Linked DNA regions of Homo sapiens. The protein of the gene in region 1 purifies or fractionates together with the protein of each later gene. This does not show direct contact. Each region holds a gene or a part of one and is shown in the gene's direction. Other genes may lie near its edges.

What was found.
Region 2: the proteins of GINS1 (region 1) and MCM8 purify together in Homo sapiens (co-immunoprecipitation; one study listed by IntAct). This does not show direct contact.

The regions. Positions count from the first base shown.
Region 1 is NC_000020.11:25,421,016-25,424,843, forward strand, and holds part of GINS1 (DNA replication complex GINS protein PSF1), read left to right. Parts: intron 1-3,828. UniProt on the Homo sapiens protein: Required for correct functioning of the GINS complex, a complex that plays an essential role in the initiation of DNA replication, and progression of DNA replication forks.
Region 2 is NC_000020.11:5,981,445-5,985,272, forward strand, and holds part of MCM8 (DNA helicase MCM8), read left to right. Parts: intron 1-1,525; coding exon 1,526-1,721; intron 1,722-3,336; coding exon 3,337-3,556; intron 3,557-3,828. UniProt on the Homo sapiens protein: Component of the MCM8-MCM9 complex, a complex involved in the repair of double-stranded DNA breaks (DBSs) and DNA interstrand cross-links (ICLs) by homologous recombination (HR).

The DNA.
Region 1 (3,828 bases):
TGAGGTCTGAATGTCATCATAGGTATCTGTATTACCCAAGGATAGTGCTTCAATGGGTGACTGAAGCACATGGGCTTGAGTCTGCCACCTAAATTCAGATCCCTGCCTTGTTAACTCTGAGCCCTTTGGTAAATTATCTAATCTCTCAAAGCTTCAGTCCTTCATGAATAAAAAGAAAATAATAATAGTAGTTACATCATGGGGCAATGAAAAAGAGAAAATAATGCATATTAAAATTTTAGCAAATTCCTGGTATATAGTAAGCACTTTATTACTGGGAGTGATGATTTCAATATTGTTGACTCAGGCTAGCAATAAAAGTAAAAGCAGAGCTAAAATAAGGTTACTAACATGAAACAGATGATCATGTGTTAATGTTTAGAGAAAACACCATTGAAAGAATATGAAAGCACACTGATGATAAGTAAAAATCTTATTATCTGATTTCAAAGTAGTAACATCTTTTGTTTTCAAAGTAGTAACATCCTTTATGTTTTTAAAATAATAACATCTTTTGTTTTCAAAGTAGTAACATCTTTTATGTTTTTAAAATAGTAACATCTTTTGTTTTTTGATTTCCTAAGTTTCTGTTTAGAATCTTTAAGCCACTAACATGAGAGATAGTGAAAATAGGTATTTTTTTCTTTCCTATTAATATTTTTCCATAAGGAAAACTAAAAAATTTGTGACTATATCAGTATGTTCTTTTGTGGAAGTAACGTGCTTATTCTACATTTCCCTTTTATCTGTGAATGAGACTGAATGAGGGTAACACCCTCATTGTCAAAACAGCTTCTGATTTTTCTTCCACTTCATCTTCTCTTTGGGGTCTGTTACACTCTTCTCAGTGGAGACAAAGTAGAAAAGACCACAGTGGAAACACCCATGTTTGACTCATTTGGCAAGATCTCTCTCAGAGAACTTTTCTTCATACTTATCAATACAAAATATCATTTTTTATCCTTTATATTATAAAAAACAATGCAGTTTTTACCACCTTGGCATACATACCTTTTAAATCTTTTAAAATCACTTAATTTAACCATTTGCATTGTGAAATCTAACATAAAAACAGGCACATGCAAACACATCTGAAAAGGTGCAGAAAACGAAGATGTACAGCCCAATGATGTGTCACTGAGGAATTCCCATGTATCCATCACCCTGTTCAAGAAAGAACATTGCTCCGGAACCTTTGTGTCCCTCCTCCCAGTGATCACTACCCTCCTGACTTTTGTGCAGACTAATCACTTCCTTATTTTTAAAAATCTTATTGCTCTGGATGCAGTGGCTCACACCCGCAACCCCAGCACTTTGAGAGGCCAAGGTGGATGGATTGCCTGAGCTCACGAGTTTGAGACCAGCCTGAGCAACAGGGTGAAACCCTATCTCTACCAAAAAAAGAAAAAAAAAAACAAAAAAAAACTTAGCTAAGTGTGGTGGCATGCGCCTGTGGTCCCAGCTACTCAGAAGGCTGAGGTGGGAGGATCACTTGAGCTTTGGAGGTAGAGGTTGTAGTAAGCTGAGATTGCGCCACTGCACTCCAGCCTGGGTGACAGTGAGACCCTGTCTTAAAACAGCAACAAAAAAACTTGCCATTTACCACCTAAGCATGCATTTCTAAACACTATAATTTAGTGTTGCCCATTTTTTGAACTTTATATAGATTCATGCAGTATCCTTTAATGATTGATGACTTTCACTAAATGTAATATTTTTGAGATTCTAATCTGTTGATATATTAGCAAGAGCTCATTCCTTGTTTTTTATTTTGTTTAGACGGAGTTTTTTGCTCTTGTTGCCCAGGCTGGAGTGCTGTGGCGTGATCTTGGCTGACCGCAACCCCCGCCTCCCGGGTTCAAGCGATTCTCTTGCCTCAGCCTCCCAGCTATCTGGGATTACAGGCATGCACCACCACGCCTGGCTAATTTTTTGTATTTTTAGCAGAGATGGGTTTCTCCATGTTGGTCAGGCTGGTCTTGAACTCCCGACCTCAGGTGGTCCACCTGCCCCAGCCTCCCAAAGTGCTGGGATTACAGGTGTGAGCCACCACACCTGGCCGAGCTTATTCCTTTTTAATGCTGAATAGTATTTCTGGTTTTTTTTTTGTTTTTTTTGAGAGACAGTTTGACTCTGTCGCACAGGCTGGAGTGCAGTGGCATAGCTCGGCTCACTGCAACCTCCGCCTCCCTGGTTCAAGCAATCCTCCTGCTTCAGCCTCTGGAGTAGCTGGGACTACAGGTGTGTGCCACCATGCCCGGCTAATTTTTGTATTATTAGTGGAGGTGGGGTTTCACCATGTTCACCAGGCTGGTCTTGAACTCCTGGCCTCAAGAGATATGCCCACCTTGGTCTCCCAAAGCTGGGATTACAGGAGTGAGCCACCGTGCCTGGCCTACCCAGAGGTTATTAAGGTTATTAAGATATTTTTCTTTTCTTTTTTTTTTTTTTTTTTTTTTTTTTTTTTTTTTGAGACGGCATCTCACTCTGTCGCCCAGGCTGGAGTGCAGTGGCTCAATCTTGGCTCACTGCAAGCTCCACCTCCCGGGTTCAAGCCATTCTCCTACCTCAGCCTCCCAAGATATTTTTCTTCTCTCTTTTTTTTTTTTTTTTTCCGAGACGGAGTCTCTCTGTTGCCCCCAGGCTGGAGTGCAGTGGCATGATCTCAGCTCACTGCAAGCTCTACCTCCCGGGTTCATGCCATTCTTCTTCCTCAGCCTCCCGAGTAGCTGGGACTACTGGCGCCCGCCACCACGCCTGGCTAATTTTTTTGTATTTTTAGTAGAGACGGGGTTTCACCATGTTAGCCAGGATGGTCTCAATCTCCTGACCTCATGATCCACCCGCCTCGGCCTCTCAAAGTTCTGGGATTACAGGCGTGAGCCACCGTGCCCGGCCTTTTTTCTATGTAATCTTTTAGGAGCTATATTTTACCTTTTACAAAGAGATCTACAGTATTGGGATTAAGTTTTGTGTATACTACAGGAGGCATGCTTCATTTTGAATATAGATATTGAGATGACCCAGCACCATGTATTGAACAGATCTGCCTCTCCCATCACTGTGTGCATGGTGCCACCTTTGTCATACATTGAGTGTCAGTATTCCTGTGGATTCTGAATGGGAGGACTTTTTCTTCTGTTATGCTAGTCTATCTGTTCTTATACCAATTCCACTGTTGTAATTACTGTAACTATATAGTATAGTTGGAGCAAGTTCCCATCTTGTTCTTTTTTGAGAGCATTTCAACTATTAGCCCTTTGCACTTCCATGTAAATTTTAGACTCAGTTTGTCAGGTTCCATTTTAAAGAAAGTTAAGATTTTGATTGAGATTGAATTGAATCTATAGATTGTTGACGTTATTACAATATTGAATCATCCAATCTGTGAATATGGTATTATTTAGGTCTTTCATTGTTTTCAACTTTTTTTTTAAAATAGCAGATTTACTGAGATATGATTCATACACTGTGAAGTTTACCATCTTAAATTGTACAGTGCAGTGGTTTTTAGTATATTCAGAGTTGTTGTGCATCCAATACCACATTCTTATTTGAGAATATTTTCATCACCCTACAAAGAAGCCCTGTCCCCTTTATAGTTACTCTATATTTTCTTCCCTCCTCCCAGCTCCTGGAAATCCCGAATCTACTTTCTGTCTCTATAGATTTACCTATTACAGGTTTTTCATATGAGTAGAATCATGCAATATGTGGCCTTCTGTCTTTCATGTGGTAATGGCAATACGTTTCAGAACTTCATTGTTACTTATGGTTAAATAATGTTCCATCATATGGGCACATATCCATTCATCAGCTGGTGGACAT
Region 2 (3,828 bases), about 19 Mb from region 1:
GGTGAACTCTCAGAAGAGATCAGCAAGAAAGGTGGCACAAAGTTCAACAAAGCCCCCCTTGCTTCCCCCTCCTAAATCATTACGTTACCAAAAAGTGCAAACTGTAGCTGGAAAGGAAAAAATGGGTCAAAATTACATTGGGAAAAGCGTATTGACAAGAATTCATATATACTGTGTCGGAAGAAATAGGTTTGGACAGAGCAGCCGTTATTATACATGAGCAAGGCAAAGAGACAGCATAGCAGCTGTGAAGAAATAACGTAGGAAGAAAGAAAGACATTTAATATGCCCAGTAAAAGACCTCACTGTAGACAAAATTATAATCTAAGGAACAAATGAAAATTTCCCATGAGTGTTTCATGTTTGATAAGAACATTAATGAAATAGCTCAAAACAAAAAGATAAGGCTATGAGAGACAAATTGATGACTAACAATGTTATTAAACTAATATATAAAATTGACACTGCTGAATGAGAAATTATAAAGAGGAAAGGCTTGAGATAATTGCAGTGAATGCAAAAGAACAAAGCTTAATACAATTAGAGGGGAAGTAACAGAGATAGAGAACAAAGGAAATTCAACATAATTGGTTCCATGAAGTAGAAAACCCAAACATGAAACCAGAAATGGATTCAAGGATAGAAGAAAATCTGTTGAAATAAACTAAAGGCACTGTATGTGCCAGGAATGTCATGTCTATTGCACAAGTTATTGGGGACTCTCTAACATTAGTTTACAATATTTGTCTTCCCTGCTCCCCATACCAGTTAGGTTAGCAGCTGGGGATCAAAAAGACTAATCAGCAGTTATTTTCCATATACTCCTCTGTGCTAGTAAGGCTTACTTAGGTATAGAGTAGATACGGAGGGGTTTAACCACAGCAAAGCCCTTCAGATGTGACCCCCAGATACTAACCTAACTGGTATGGGGAGAAAGGAAGACAAGCATTACGAGGTAATGTTAGAGAATCTCCAATAACTTATGCAATAGACATGACATTCCTGGTACATACAGTGCCTTTAGTTAGTGGTGGTGCATTGTATTATGTTTAAAGAGATTAAGTGATTTCCCTATAAGTGCATACAAGTGTATAGTCAATACCTGGTATAGGTTTTGAAATATACTTATTAAACATAATAAACTTACTATATGTGTATTGAGGTATACTTATTAAATTGTGCATGTGTGTTTGTGTGTGTATGTAACATCACACCCATTTGAATTTAACTCCTTAAGCATTTTGAGAATTACTCTTACCTCCTCTTCGTTTTTGTAATCCTCACAACATAGTGCTGTGCGTATGAAAAATGCTAAAGGAAGAACTATTACACAAAACTTAGTTAAATAAGACAAATGTATTAACTTGCTGCAGAACAAACAGTAATTCTCCATTGTATGACATTTTATAATTTTAACTGCTGAAACAAATGGAAATAATTATTGTGAAACAATTTCTATCCTATAAAATTTGGAACTTGACCAAAGAAAAAATGTTTTTTCTGCTTTATTCTACTTCGATTGTAGGTATTTGTGGAATCGATGAATTTGATAAGATGGGGAATCAACATCAAGCCTTGTTGGAAGCCATGGAGCAGCAAAGTATTAGTCTTGCTAAGGCTGGTGTGGTTTGTAGCCTTCCTGCAAGAACTTCCATTATTGCTGCTGCAAATCCAGTTGGAGGACATTACAATAAAGCCAAAACAGTTTCTGAGAATTTAAAGTAAGTCTCTTCAAATATTTATACCTTTAATGTATTGAATCACTTTAATTCAATAAGAAAAAGAAATAGTTCACAGAACTACAGGGGAAAAACATGGATATTTCACAGAAGTTATAAATGTCCAATAAATGCACAAAAATGTGCTTAAACACTGCAGAGTAAAACAATGAAGTACGAATGAGATCCACCAGATTGGCAAACATTTTAAATATTAATCATTTTTGGCAAAGTAGTGTGGAAATGGTTTCTCAGTGGCTGGGCGGGTGGCTTATGCCTGTAATCCCAGCACTTTGGGAGGCTGAGGCAGGTGGATCACCTGAAGTCAGGAGTTTGAGAACAGCCTGGCCAACATGGCAAAACCCCGTCTTTAGTAAAAATACAAAAATTAGCCAGGCATGATGGCAGCCGCCTGTAATCTCAGCTACTTGGGAGGCTGAGGCAGGAGAATTGCTTGAACCTGGGAGGTGGAGGTTGCAGTGAGCCGAGATTGTGCCACCACACTCCAGCCTGGGTGACAGAGTGAGACGCCATGTCAAAAAAAAAAGAAAAAGAAATTGTTTCTCACATACACAATTTATTATTTTGTGGGACCCCTTGGTGTGTTGATCACAATTCTAAATGCACATTCTGTTTGTTATAGCCACTCTACTTTTAGGACTACTGTTCACAGAAATAGTCATACAAGTGCACAACGATAGGTTTATAGCATGGGTATTGCAGCATTATTGCTGCCAAACATTGGAAACACCTTAAAACTATAATAAGACTGTAGTGATTATGAGAACGAAAGTGGCTTTATATGTACTAATGGGGGAACATGTCTGTGCTGTACTATTAAGTGAGAAGAGCACATTAACAAACTTAAATATGTGGTATGATCCTGCTTTTTTCAAAAACAATGTTTATATCTGTATGTATGCTTTCTCTTCTAATTCATTCTGTACAGCTTGGACAAAATGTGTGGAAAAGGAAAAATATATTTAAGTGATACAAAAGTGAGAAAAAGACAAAAGAGTACCTCCTGAAAAATTAGAGCCTTAAGCCTAGTGGGGGTGGAGTTAATTTCTTGTTGTTTAATAATGTATCAATATAGAAACAGTCTTTGATACATAGTGAAATACACAATGTGTACTTGGAGATTTAGGGTATTTACCACCACCACCAAAAAAATCAACCTACTAGTAGTTTTTCTTTAGTAAAATGACAAAGTGCTATATTAGAAAAATCAGAAAGATCTATTGAACAAAAATCCAGCAGACTTGGATTCTGTTTTTTAATGGTATCATGAACAAAATACTGAACTAGCTAACCTCTGATATGTCATGTAGCAGTATTGCCAATTAGTGATAATAGGACATGAAGAATTCAGTGGGTTTGGGGGTGTGAGAAAGAGCCATGTCCTCAACCTACCCAGGGTAGATACATGTAATTCTTGTGCCCATGTTGCAGTGGTTGGATATATCGAATCCAAGAAGCTATTTGCTTATTTCTTTAACCTAAATCTTGGTTTTTCAAGTTCTGCGTGGAACTTGAGTAGTAAATAAGTGAGTAGACAGTTTTCTAGTTTTTCCTTTTGATTCCAATCATTGTTTCTTCTTTCTTTCATCCTTCATAGAATGGGGAGTGCACTACTATCCAGATTTGATTTGGTCTTTATCCTGTTAGATACTCCAAATGAGCATCATGATCACTTACTCTCTGAACATGTGATTGCAATAAGAGCTGGAAAGCAGAGAACCATTAGCAGTGCCACAGTAGCTCGTATGAATAGTCAAGATTCAAATACTTCCGTACTTGAAGTAGTTTCTGAGAAGCCATTATCAGAAAGACTAAAGGTATAAATGTTTCTTCTCCTTATTCAGTTTGGTTCTGTTTGAATGTCAAAGTTCAGTGTGTGGCTTATTGTAGAGCAGTAGGATACAAACTTTTTTTTTACCAGAACTTTTTAATATTTCCATACTAGAGTTTACGTAAACTTCATCTGAAATAATCCAAGTCGGCCTGGCGTGGTGGCTTATGCCGGTAATCCCAGCACTTTGGGAGGCCGAGGCAGGTGGATCATGAGGTCAAGAGATCGAGACCATCCTGGCCAACATGATGAAACCCC